Linked DNA regions of Homo sapiens: region 1 is linked to region 2. A link means that fine-mapping ties the variant in region 2 to the expression of a gene that starts in the linked region. Tissue or cell type: aorta. Region 2 holds a variant in brackets; the other region holds the start of a gene. All regions are shown on one strand. Distances are from middle to middle.

Region 1 (6,255 bases), 50 kb before region 2:
ACAGGTTCTAAATCATGCATGACTTCAGAAATTAAATAAGGGGCAAAAAAAAAAAAACTTTATTTCCCCCAATCACTTTGAAAAACACACTGGCCTTCACATACCCTTTGTCCTAAAATCATTAGGTAGCACTGCATTTCCTCCACAGTTCATGTAAGCATCCTCTCATGCCTTTTAACAAGAGAGAATCTAGCTGTATGCTCCCTATAGCTTAGTTTCAGCTGAAGGGAACATTACCAATGAATGTATTCAATGAAAACAATTAGATGACTCCTAACCATAAGGGACCTTTTGTGGAGTGAGTCGCCAAAGCCTGTGGTCCAAGTAGGCAGGAGGCTGGAAAATATTTATAATGACTGACTATATATATATACACACACACATATATATACACACACACACACACATATATGTACACACACTTACACACACACACATATATATACACACACACACACATATATATGTACACACACACACACACACACACACATATATACACACACACACACACACATATATATATATATATTTTTTTTTTCCCCCCAAGACGGAGTCTTGCTCTGTCACCCAGGCTGGAGTGCAGTGGCGCGATCTCAGCTCACTGCAACCTCCGCCTCCCTCAATTCAAGCAATTCTCCTGCCTCAGCCTCCCGAGTAGCTGGGATTACATTACAGGCATGCGCCACCATGCCTGGCTAATTTTTGTATTTAGTAGTGACGGGTTTCACCATGTTGGCCAGGCTCTTCTTGAACTCCTGACCTCGTGATCCACCCGCCTTGGCCTCCCAAAGTGCTGGGATTACAGGTGTAAGCCACCACACCCAGCCAACACTCTTTTTAAGAGAGAGAGAGGATCTCACTATGTCGCCCAGGCTGGTTTAAAATTCCTGGGCTCAAGCAATCCTCTGGCCTCGGCCTCCTGAGTAGTTGGGCATCTGTAGGAACATTCCAACACACCAGCAAAAGACTCTCTCACTGACCAAACTTCAGTCAGGTTCCTCTGAGCCATCTTCTTGAATAGACCTCAAACCCTGGCCCCAATCCTATCTTTGGGCTGCCTAGCCCAGTTTTAATAAGAATACTTCTAAGTCAGTTTAGACAGAATCTTCTACCCCTGATATCTGATCACCCTATCTGGTCAAATTCTTCATCTTTGCAATGTTCTTATTGCAACAGTCCTCAATAAAGTCAGACTAATTTTTTCTTTAACATGACCCCAAGAAAAAACAGAATTTATAAGATTAATCTGTAATAGCTGTTACTATTCCTATACAGCAGTATTATAAAAGTAGTCCAAAGGGTATTTGATATCTGATGTAGCACTGTCCAATAGATAAAATACAAGTAGGCAACTTTCTTGTAGCCCAAGAATTGGAATTATAATCGGAATTAGAATATTTAAACCAATATATCGAAAATATAATTTTTACATAAAATCAATATAAGAGATTTTAGATTCTTGTTTTTCACATTAAGTCTTCAAAATCCAGTGTGCTACATATTTTGTACTTCTGCGTCTCAGTTCCAAAACCTTCATCAGAAATACTTGTCTGTATTGGATTTAAAAACTTTACATTTAAAATATACATGCACATACCCAAGTTATTCCAAACATACTTTTTTCCAATAATGTAATCAAATATCCAATTTTAAACTTAAAATTAAAAATGAAGTTATGAGCCCAGGTGGTCAGCGTTGCAGTTAACCGTGACTGGGCAAGTGCATTCCAGCCTGGGCAACAGAGCAAGACCCTGTCTTAAAAAAAAAAAAAATTAAAGTTCGGTTCCTCAATTCCACTAGCCACATTTCAAGTGCCCACTTGCCATGTGTAGCTACTGGACAGCAGGGAGCTACACCCTAGGTACTCCCAATGTGGTTTCCAAACCAGTGGCATCTTCACCTAGAAACTTTAGAAACACAAAAGCTTGGGCCTCACCCTAGACCTCCTTAAACAGAATCTGCAACTTAACAAAATCCCCAGGTGATCCATATACACAACCACATTGGGGAACACTACTTAGAGTGTTTTTAAAATAGATTTTGCTACTTTAACACCTAGTGATAAAAGTAAAAACATTTATTTTACTTACATACACCAAATGTGACTCTTTCATCTATGTATACCCTTGTTTACCTCAACCAACACCCCGGGAAATGCTAGGACCTAAATGTGATCAATTTTGTTTGCAATTATCTCACAATACATCCAGGTGATAATTCTTAAGAGTCAAAGACGCAGCTAAGAAGGGTGGCATTACCTGTAGATTATTTTCTTCCATTTTGTTTCGAAGTTTTGTTGAAACAAAAATGAAGATTTATCCTTCAAGCTCTATTTGAGAGAATCAGCACTGACTCAGCTGTAATAAATACAAAACCGTTTTTGTAAAGCGATACCTGAAAGAAATAGCTGCCTAGTTCAGAAGGGAAGAACGAAAGCCTCTTTCTTACTCCTTACTACAGTATATAATTTAAATAGAACGCTTAAAAGTAAATAATGAATTCACCTCTGAGTACTCAAAAAAAAAAAAAAAAACACGAAAGCAGGACTCGAACAGATATTTATACACCGAAGTTCATAGCATTATTCACAATAGCCAATCTGTGGATTAAATGTGGACTACCATTTAATCCACAGAATGTATCCAGTATTTTTTCAGACATTCGCAAACAGGCTCAGAAAGCGTAACTTTTCACTACGTCAAACCCTACTAAGAGCGAAAACAGCCATCCTTTCCCTTTACTATCATGAATAGTTCAACTAGATACAAACGGAGCAATCTTAGGAGTTCTGCCCATTTCATTGCTAAGACCCTCAACTTCAAATTTTTTCAAAAATTTTTCCACACATCGTCAAAATGAAATTTCGAGGGGGAAAAAAAGTGTCCTTGATAAACTAGAGATGCTCCAACATCTATTCAATTCACTCACGAACTTGAATTTAAATTTTAGTTCTCTATTGCACATGTGTCTCCAACAACTAGACTTTAATCTGGAATCTAGGCAACATGTTAGTCACCAACTTGTATTAAGAAACCCTGGCCGGGCGCGGTGGCTCACGCCTGTAATCCCAGCACTTTGGGAGGCCGAGGCGGGCGGATCACGAGGTCAGGAGATCGAGACCATCCCGGCTAAAACGGTGAAACCCCGTCTCTACTAAAAATACAAAAAATTAGCCGGGCGTAGTGGCGGGCGCCTGTAGTCCCAGCTACTTGGGAGGCTGAGGCAGGAGAATGGCATGAACCCGGGAGGCGGAGCTTGCAGTGAGCCGAGATCCCGCCACTGCACTCCAGCCTGGGCGACAGAGCGAGACTCCGTCTCAAAAAAAAAAAAAGAAAAAGAAAAAGAAACCCTGCTCACTGAAACCAACGCTTCTGTCTTTGTACGGGCCGTCGCTTCCATCATCCTGCGGTAAGCAGCATGCCCAACCGAAAAAACAAAGCTCGTCGCGGAGCCGCCAGCGTCCTCAACTCAGCGCCGCCCTGACGCCCGCGCACGCACGGCCTCGCTGCGTGACGCTACCGCCGCGGCTACGCCGGCGCCCGCACCCGCGCCTCGGCCTCCCCGCGGGGCTCGCCAACCTCGTGCGCTCTCACGGTCGGCCTTGGGCCCCGGGAGCCTCATGGTGCGCCGAGCTCCGTCCCTCTAGGCTCTCAGTTCCAAGGCGTCGGTTTTGCGTCTCGTAACGGCCGCTGTGGCGCATGCCCAGAAGCCATTTTCAAGGTCCTCTTCCGAACCTTGGCGAGGACCCCTGCGCCTGCCGCGCCGTTGACCCCGCTAGCGTGCGGCTGCGACGCGGCACGGTACGGCAGCTGTTGGCGAAGGCCCCCAACTCCGAGCGCGTCCGCAGACCGCGAGCCGGAAGGCGGCTTGGGCGGCTGTTGAGTTCGTGGCGCTCCCGAGGCGTGGCAAAGGCCTAAAAACGGTCCTGGCCAGCGGAAGGCGGCAAGAGGAGCAGCAAGGCTCCACGCGAGGCGGCCGGCGGCTGGAGTCCCAGTCAGCCTCCGCTTTCATCCCAGAGCAGTCCACGGGGGCCTTAAAGGAATGTAGGCTGGGTGAAGTTGGCCCAGTGACACCTGCGTTCAGAAAAACGTTCTTTCCGCTCCCAACGCCCCCTCTCCACCGCCACCCGACCCCCGAAATAGTTTTCCCCGAGTGTTGTGGATAGAACTGTTGATCTCTTGGAAAAGTTATTGTATCCTGCCATCCTTCCCTCTGGAGACTCCACTTAATATATATAAGTACTTTCTTTCCTGTATATGATGGAAGAGTATTAGGGGGGTGAGGGGAGGGACGAAGCTGCCTTCTTTAGGGAAAAAAGATTGACTTATATTTTGAAAGATGCAAAAGCTGGTGTTTTTGCTACTGAATTAATAGCCTATTAATATGCCACAAATGATATATTGGAACTGTATTTTCAAACATTTAACGCCTGCTGTATGCAAAGCACTATGCTGACAGCTTAAGGGTACCACAATGATAAATTACACCAATCTTGTTTTTGGCATTTTGGGGAGTCTAGTGTCATAGGTAAAGAAGTACATAACTAACAATAAGCTTCAAAAATTCAATCATAAGGCCCGGCACCGTGGCTTCCGCCTGTAATCCCAGCACTTTGGGGGATCACTTGAGCCCCGGAGTGTGAGACCCCGTCTCTACCAAAAAAAAAAAGAAATTAGCTGGGCATGGTGGTGCCTGCCTGTGGTCCCAACTGTTTGGGAGGCTGAGGCCGGAGGATCACTTGACCCCAGGAATCTGAGCCTGCAGTGAGCTATGATTGCACCACTGCACTCCAGTCTGGGCGACAGAACCAGACCATGTCTAAAAAGAAAAAACACTCAGTGATAATTTCACATTACAGTTTGAGAGGTTCCTGTTGACTTGGGGAAACTAGTTTTAGCAGACTTCATTAAAGGAGTGTACACCTTACTACAGGATGTAATTTAAAATAGAATGTTTAAATAATAAATTCACTTCTGGGTATATACTCAAAGCAGGAATTCAAACAGGTATTTGTACACCAAAGTTCGTAACAGCATTATTCACAGTAGCCAAAATGTGGAAACAACCCAAATGTCCATTAAAGGATGAATAAACAAAATGTGATATACATACAATGGAATATTCAGCCTTTATTTTTCCAATCAGAGTTTCAGGAAAATCAACCTTTAAAAGGAGTGAAATTCTGACATTTGCTGCCACATGGATGAATCTTGATGATGATATGCTGAGTGATATATAATCAGTCACGGAAGGACAAATACTGCATGATTCAATTTATATCAGGTACCTAGAGTAGCCAAATTCATAGAGACAAAGTAGAATGGTGGTTGCTACGGGCTGAGAGGAGGAGGGAATTGAGAGTTGTTTAATGGGTGATGGAAAAGTTTTGTAGATAGGATGGTTGCACTGAATGCCACTGAACTTAAAAATTGTTAAAGTGGTTTTATGTATATTTACCACAGTTTCAAAAATTTTAAGGAAAACATAAAAGCTATCATCTATACAGCATTCCTGGATCTAGGGTTTTTGCCTCCCCTGCTGGTTAGCCCATTTATGAACTTGAGCTCCTCATGTCCATTCCCTCTCCAAATTTGCCTATTTCATCATTCTCCTGGCCTCCTACTCTTATTAGAGTCTGAAAAATCATCCTTGGCTCTGTCCATTTTTGTCCTTCCCACACTTGGACAATCACCAAATTTTGACTTCTTCAAGCTGTCATCTACCATCTGTTCCTTCCCACAGCTAATAGCTTAGCCTTGTCATCTCATTTTGTCATTATAACTCATCTTTCCTTCGTACACAAGGTAAGTCCTACTGAGTTATAGACCATGTAACGTCTTTTAGAGTGGATTTTAAGTCAAATAGGCCTTAAATCCAGATTTTACTATTACTGCATAACCTTTGGAAGTTGCATCCTCTCTGAGTGTTAGGGGGTTTTTTTAAGTTAAAAAATGAGAAATGATTACTTATTTGGTAAATGTGTATAGAGTATTTATTATGGATCAAGTACTTGTTTGAATTTAAAAGACAGATAAAGATCCTTTCATAGCTTTTACAGTCCAGCAGGTGTAGGTGTCTGGCACACAATAGGTAATCAAGAGTTATCCTGGGCTGAGTGAGGTGGCTCATGACTGTAATCCCAGCAGTTTGGGAGGCTGAGGCAGGAGGATGGCTTGAGGCTAGGAGTTCAAAACCAGCCTGGGCAACATAGCGAGACCTGTCTCTACAAAGAAAAAAAACATTATCTGGCCA
Region 2 (7,783 bases):
GGCTGGTCTGGAACTCTTGGGCTCAAGTAACCCTCCCACCTTGGCCTCCCAACATGCTGGGATTATGGGCATGAGACACCATGCTGGGCCCAAATAGGAAGTTTTATATGATTCCTCTTTTTTTTTTTTTTTTGGTGGAAATGGTCTGCCTTTGGCAGAAGGGGGATGTAAGGGCATGGTGGAAGACTACATTATGGATTAGGGCCACTAAAAATCTTGCAGTTTCCAATGTTTTCCTGGAGTTAATCCTACTCTACATTCCTTCTATATCCCTAAATATTTCTTTTTGATATCCCCTACAATGGCCACTTCAAATCTTTACTAGTTTCTGAAGTTCCTACTTCATCTCCATATTCATTTCATATTCATATTTACTGCAGCCTTGACCTCCCTGGGCTCAAGCACTCCTCCCACCTCAGCCTGCTGAGTAGCTGGGGCTACAGGCACACGCCACCCCACCTGGAGACTTTTTTATATTTTTGGTAGAGATGGGGTCTCTCCATGTTGCCCAGGCTGCTCTCAAACGCCTAGGCTCAAGTGATCCACCTGCCTTGGCCTCCCAAAGTGTTGGGATTATGGGCATGAACCAATGCGCCTGGCCACCTCTCTCTATATCTTTCCGTTACATGTCTTAAATTCTGCCCTTGGCTGATCTACCTATGCACCAGATCACATTTATTTATTCATTCATTTGTGTGGTAGACTGCCAATTGTTCCCCAATAGAGATTACTGGAATGTATCGTTAGTCTCTTTTATCTCCTCTCACTGAATTCTGCTGCTTAGAACTTTAATGTGATAGCTGGAACTTTATCTTGGACCAAGAAGGAGGGCCTCCTCCTAGGGATGGCAGACTAAAGAGGAAAAAGGAGCCTGGGTCTCTCAAGACTCCGTGGAATAGAATTGCCACGCCACTCCTGGAGGCTTTGCCTCTACTATTTTATATCAGGAAGAAACTTCTGGTTAAGCCACTGTTATAGGTTTTCTGTCCACTCTCAGCAAAACCTAATCCCGACTAATCACAGTTCTGAGATCTGGAATTGCACACCAAGTAACATAAGCTAAAGTAGTGCGCATGAGCTTAGTGAAGGAGGGTGGGTGTCAGGAAGCATCAACACAGGCATGTGTGGTCTGGAAAGTGGATGATTCTTGTGTGGAGCATCCTCACATTTTCTCCCTCTTCCGTTCCAGACTCTTATCTTTATCTTTTATTTTCAGTCCCTCTCCTGGCCTTTGCATTATTTACTAATCTTAAATTTGCTGATATTACCTTATTAGTACACTAATAATGTGTAAATAGACTTACTCTTGTAGCTATTTCCCCTCTTGGTTGTCTTAGCTCCATTCCCTTCAGTATCAAAATTCATGCATTCACTGCTTTGCAGAATCTCATTCCTGAAGCGAGAATTTCAGACAGCTGGTAAATTTAGTCATTCAAAGCTTTAAAGTAAATTCATATTACAAAAGCAACCGCTTTATTTGCATTGTTTCCCAATGGAACAGTTCAGCGATAACACTCATTACCTATTTTGACAACCAAGAAGTTGACATTAGCCAGAGACGGTTGCTAACACAATAATTATCTTTCCTAACTCATTTCTTTAAAATCATTGTACTTCCAGACCATTGTTTTTCTCTCTTTCCTGAATCCCCTAGGTCCTATAAAACACGTCATCAGATTACACCATCTACTGTCCCTCAGTTGTCTATATCATCCATACCCAATAGATACTCCCCTAATATTTTAATAATTATAGAGTTTAATAGAGGCTCAATACCTCTTTCACCACTCTTGCCATAATTCTTAGTGATTCCAATATCCATTGAACAATCTTTCCAATACTCAGACCTCTCAATTTTTTGACCTCCTGACCTCCAATGATTTTTTTCCTCCATCTGACCTCAGCTGCCAGTTCCAATGGTTACATCATAGACCTGGCCATCATCAATAACTGGCACTTCTCCACGGTTTCCATTTCAATCAAGCATCCCATTCTCTAATCACCAACTCCTATATTTCCTGCTTACTTTCTCTAAGATCCTCTCCAACAATTCTTTAACTCCCTTGGGTCCTCCATTCTATTGCTCCTGCCAACTTTTCATTCCATTGCAGCCCCTTTAGCCTCCATTGCAGTGAGGTATTACAAGCCACAGTTCCTTGCTTACCCAGCTTAGTTTCCACTGTACAATATTATAAATCACATCCTTGAAAACACTCTTAACTCCCTTACTGCGGTCTCCATCACCCTTGTCTAGTAATACTCCAATCCAAGTTAGATACAACTCTCTGTCTACTCTGTGCACACAAGTGACTGAACATGACTGGTCCTGTTTGCCATCACTCCCAATGACCCACTTGAGGGGTTTGTGCTGCCCCCTTCTGGAACTCTGGGCTTCAGCGAACTGGAGAGTGGGTGTTCTTTAAATGTTGCACCCTAGGTGCCTCCGTTGCCCTGGTGGACACCATGGTGTACCATCCAGATCTCCCCTCCAGAGTTGTCCTGAATCCGGGCCAGGAGCACTAACATTCCTTTATCCACCAATCACTGGATGTAGGTGGCCCAGGGAGCAGGTATGACTTTGAGCCAGGCAGCTCTCATGAGCCAAGGGCAAGTCTGCAAGAGACTGAGCGGGAGCTGTCAACCACCAACACTCCCTGCTGCTGGGGGCGTAAGAGCACAGGCTGTTCTAACCAAGCTGCTCCCTCCTCAGGGCTTTTGCACTTCCACTTCCTTCTGCCTGGATGTTCTTTTCCTAAGTTTCCAAAGGATGCACTCCTTCACTTCCCTTAGGCCTGTGCTCAAGCATCTGGTTGCCAGAGAGGTCTTCCCTAACAGCTGTATTCTCTCCTATCACTCCACTTTTTCTTCATAAAATTTAGCAGCACTCAACATATTTTATTACTTTAGCTGCTTGGTTTGGCCTTCCTTTGCTAGAGTGCATGCTCCAAGAGGACAGGGTTCTGATTTGTTTGTATCTTCCATGTCCTGAATAGTTCCTGGTCTTCATTAGGTCCTCAATATGTCAACATATATTTGATGGGTGCACAAATTGAAACGCCTTAAATTCATAGTAGTCAGCTCATAAGGCAGAGTGGTTTAGTGGAAGGAGCTTAGGGTTTGGAGTTAGACTGATTTTTGAAAACACCTTTATTTAGGTATAAGTAGCATTTAATAAATTGCACATATTTAAGACATAAACTCAATACATTTTGACATATGTATACACTCATAAATTCACCACCACAGTTCACATAATGAACATGTTCTTCACCCCCAAGAGTTTCCTCTTGCACTTTTGTAATCCCTCCTTCCTGCCATTCTCCATCCCCAGGCAGCCACTGATTTGCTTTCTGTTTTTAAGAGTAGTTTGCATTTTCTAGAAATTTATATGATTAGTTCAAACCATCTGTATTCTTTTTTTAGGTCTGACTTTTTTTGAGATTCATCCATGTTTTTGTGTGTTCCTTTTTTTGCTGGGAAAAATTTCATTTGTTTATTACTTATTTTGGCTGACAGACATTTGGTTTGCTTATAGTTTGAGGATTGTTAAAAATAATGCTACTGTGAATATTCCTGTATGTTTTTGTATGGACATATGCTTTCATTTTTTTTGAGTCAATACCTAGGAGTGAAATGGTGAGGCATGTGTTTAACTTTTTAAGAAACAGCCAAATTATTTTCCAAAATGATCGTACCATTTTTCATTCTTACCAGGTATGAGATTTCTGATTGTTCCACATCCTTGCCAACACTTAGTTTACTCAGTCTTTCTAATTTTATTATTTATTTATTTATTTATTTATTATTTGAGACAGGGTCTCATTCTATTGCTCAGGCTGGAGTGCAGTGGTGCGATCATGGCTCACTGCAGGCTTGACCTCCTGAGTTCAAGTGATCCTCCCGCCTCAGCCTCCCAAGTAGCTGGCACTACAGGCGCATGTCACCACATCCAGCTAATTTTAAAAAATTTTTTGTACAGACAGGGTCCTACGATGTTGCCTAGGCTGTTCTCAAAACTCCTGACCCCAAGTGATCCTGTTGCTTTGGTCTCTCAAAGTGCTGGGATTACAGGCACAGCCACAATGACCAGCTTCTAATTTTAGACATCCAATAAGTATGTATCTCACTGTGGTTTTAATTTGCATTCTGTGGGCCCAGCGCAATGGCTCACGCTTATAATCCCAGCACTTTGGGAGGCCAAGGTGGGCAGATGGCTTGAGCCCAGGAGTTTGAGACCAGCCTGGGCAACATGGTGAAACCCCATCTCTACAAATAATACAAAAATTAGCCAGGTGTAGTGCTGCACACCTGTGGTCCCAGCTACTCAGGAGGCTGAAGTGGGAGGATCATTAGAGCCTGGGAGGTCAAGACTGCAGTGAG[G/C]TGTGATTGCGCCACTACATTCCAGGTTGGATGACAGAATGAGACCCCGTCTCCAAAAAAAAAAAAAAAAACCTTTTCTGCATTCTGCTAATGACTAGTGATGCTGAGGATTTTTTCCATGCCTTTATTTTCCACGAGTATGTCTTCTTTTGTAAAGTGTTTGTTCATATCTTTTGCCCATTTTGTATTGAGTTGTTTTCCTATTACTGGGTTTTGAGAATACACACACACAGAATACAAGTCCTTTATAAGATATATATTTTCCCGCAGTCTGTGGCTTATCTTTTCATTCCCTTAATAGTGCAGATATTCTTCATTTTAATGAAGTCAAATTTATCAAATTTTAAAAATGGATTATACTTTTAGTGTTGTATATAAGAAATCTTTGCCTAACCCAAAGTCACAAAGATATTCTCTTGTGTTTTTTTTTCTGGACATTTTATAGTTTCAGGTGCTACATTTAGATCTATGATCCATTTTGAGTTCATTTTTTAATGTGGTGTGAGGTATGAACCAAAGTTTATGTTTTCTGCATATGGTTATCCAGTTGTTCCAGCACCATCTGTTGAAAAGTCTATTCTTTCTCCTTTGGATTGCCTTGTATCTTTGTTGAAAATCAATTATCTATATATGCGTGGGTTTATTTTTGGACTCTCTGTCCCATTGATCTATTTATCTATCTTCATGCCAATACCACCCGGTCTCTATTTTATTTTAGCTTTATGGTAAATCTTAAAGTCAGGGACGGTAAATGCAGTTCTTTTCCCTTTTTTGTAATCCTATCTTGGTTGAAAGTAGAAATCAGACTGATGCGTTTTAACTCTAGTTTGATCATTTAATTCTTGTGTGATTTCAGATAAGCCAATTAATTATGTTTATTATTCATTTATGTATCTGTTCATTGTTAAAATTATACATTGTAATTCTTAAATTAAATGCTAATTATTATTAAGAGTGTGAACTAGGAAGACAGCTCCGGAAATAAAAGGAACTAGCCAGGCGCAGTGGTGCATGCCTGTAGTCTCAGCTACTCAGGAGGCAGAGGTGGGAGGATTGCTTGAGCCCAGGAGTTGGAGGCTGCTTGGCAAAATAGCAAGACCCTGTCTCTAAAAAAATGAAAAAAAAAAAAAGGTACTGGAACTGCAGGGTGGTACGGGGGATGGATAAATTTAATGTGCTCACCAGGGACCTCTCACTATCTTTCTCAGTACAGGGACATGCTCCTGCCCTTTCATATTCCATGTTGAAGTTTTGCAACAAATTCTTCCTGACAGTAGGACCAATCACTTACTTTGAACTAAAAGAACAACAACAAATAAAGGTGAAAAAGAAAAATAAAACTGGTCAGCATCCCCGAGTTCAAAATAATTATTCTACCACATCAACAACTTTCTGTGCAGCTTTCTAAAATTTTTATTTAGACAGAAATTGTTTTAAAAAGAAGGTTGCTTTGAAACCAAGGTTACAGTAGCTTTTTGGCCCGCTTGCCGTGGCTTTCTCCAACTCTCTTCTTCTTTTCAGTCTTTGCAATACCTGTCCCTGCCGGTCTCCAAGTGCCCCTGGTTACAGGTCAGCTCCACACTGAAGGGGAGGAGCTACTTCCTAGGGTCTCTTCCCAGCATCACAGCCCTACATCCCAGCGACCAACGGTGTTATACTCCTGGGGGCCAAAGAGGACCCGGATTGCTTTGTTTTGTGCCATGTGAGTACTATGTCCAACAGGATGGCTGGTGGACGAGAGACATGTTTGCCTTTGATTGGATTCATTCTTATCTGTCTTAAAATGGTGAGTTCATCATTCCAACTACCCACAACTATTTAGGGGAAAAAAGAAAGACACATTATTTTTCTCTCCTTTTTTTTTTGAGGAGTTGGGGAATAGGGAGATAGAAATCAGAATACTTTGGTTTGTACCGAGGTTGTATATGTTTGCGTGTTTGAAATTTAATGCCATATACTAGAGAAAGAAAACAAGATTATCATTATATTTTAAGAACAAAGATTTCTGAAAAATCTGTCAGCAGCTACTGACTTAGTTCAATAGGCAGATTCAAAGGGGAAAAAAATGAAATAGTAATGGGATCTGCCTCCAGCCTCTAAATTCTATTTAGAGTTGTTTTGTGGTAGATTTGGGTGCTGGGAAATGATTTGTGTGGAGAAATACTTGTATGGATTGAAAGACTGCTCACGTTAGATGTAAAAATGTTGTGATTAATTTATTACCGCTTTTATTCATGTTTTACGTTTGTTCAAGTTGTGTTTTTCTGTGTGGTTCTAATTTTCCAAACTTTCCTTTTCAGGTTGCTTCAGCAAAATCAGGTACAATTTTCTGACCTGCAAGTTTTTCCTTCTCGTATTTGATTTTAATTTCCATTGTTAATTCACGGGCTACCCTGAAATCTAAAGGCTATATGAGAAAAAAAAATTCAATATTTTCTGAGCACTCACACTGGGTGCTAAGCACTCTATTGGGTCCTGGGGAGACAATAACTGGTAAGACAAATAAATGGATTGAACTCGAAAGACAAATCTTCATAAAGTGTTCTTGCTGAGGACTATAATGTACAGAGCCATGTAGGCATGCATTTTCTCATATACGGTTAGCCATGTGTGAAATATTACAATGATCATCATTCCAGTTAAGATATTGTACAGAGTCTAATTTATACAAATGTTCTTGTTTATCTTCCGGGGAATTAGAGGGAAAATGAGAAATGTTATATTTGATTAAATTGTCAATATTCCCTACTTTAAAAAGAACTTTATACTTCTAATATTGCATATTTGAAATATAGACAATAGTCACTCAGGGCTGAAAGGGGACCCTCTTTTAAAAATAGTTGATCTCCATCTTTCTTGAGTAGATAACCGAAGGCAAAAATAATTTATCTAGAGGCCCCTCCTAGCTCATTTGTGCTAGAAATCTAAGTACCTGGAATGGAAATTTATTTTTAGGAGGGTTAACTTATCTGTAGGAACCACATAATATCAACCATATCACCGATAAATTCTCATAGTGATTCAACATAAATTAGAAAAATTTTTATTTATTATTTTGTCTACACCACAGAAAAGGAAGTGAAATTAAGACAGTTAAAAAATTTGATACAGATACATGTCTGAGCCATGAAATTTCATAAAATTCATGCATATACAGTAAGTTTTTAAAAATTTCTATTTCCTGGCCAGGTACCAAGGCTCACGCCTATAATCTCAGCACTTTGGGAAGCCAAGATGGGAGGATTGCTTGAGCCCAGGATTTCAAGACCAGCCTGGGCAACATAGCAACACCCCACCTCTTGCTTTATTCTTATTTACTTGTCTTATTCTTGAGAGATCTTTAGGATTAGCCAGGAAACTATAGGAGGGTCTGCTTGGCCATATACAAAGTGGCATTTTTTTT

Direction of the effects. Alleles are on the strand shown, and positions count from the first base shown. SD is a standard deviation of normalised expression in the study named.
In carriers of allele C in region 2, the expression in aorta of the gene that starts at base 3,491 in region 1 tends to be higher than with G alone (moderate effect, 0.73 SD a copy in GTEx).

The links. PIP is the estimated chance that this variant, and not a neighbour inherited with it, causes the effect.
Region 1: it holds the start of HENMT1, and the variant in region 2 is fine-mapped to the expression of HENMT1 in aorta (GTEx, PIP 0.99).

The regions. Positions count from the first base shown.
Region 1 is chr1:108,657,603-108,663,857 of GRCh38, forward strand. HENMT1 (HEN methyltransferase 1) reads right to left here and starts at 3,491. Exons shown (of 8, transcript NM_001102592.2): 1 at 3,361-3,491; 2 at 2,262-2,360. The coding sequence starts at 2,282. RefSeq lists enhancers at 3,210-3,799, 3,800-4,388 and a silencer at 3,455-3,624.
Region 2 is chr1:108,706,831-108,714,613 of GRCh38, forward strand. It overlaps FNDC7 (fibronectin type III domain containing 7), which reads left to right and starts at 6,078. Exons shown (of 13, transcript NM_001144937.3): 1 at 6,078-6,166; 2 at 6,681-6,699. The coding sequence starts at 6,104. The variant G/C (reference allele first, on the strand shown) is at 4,381.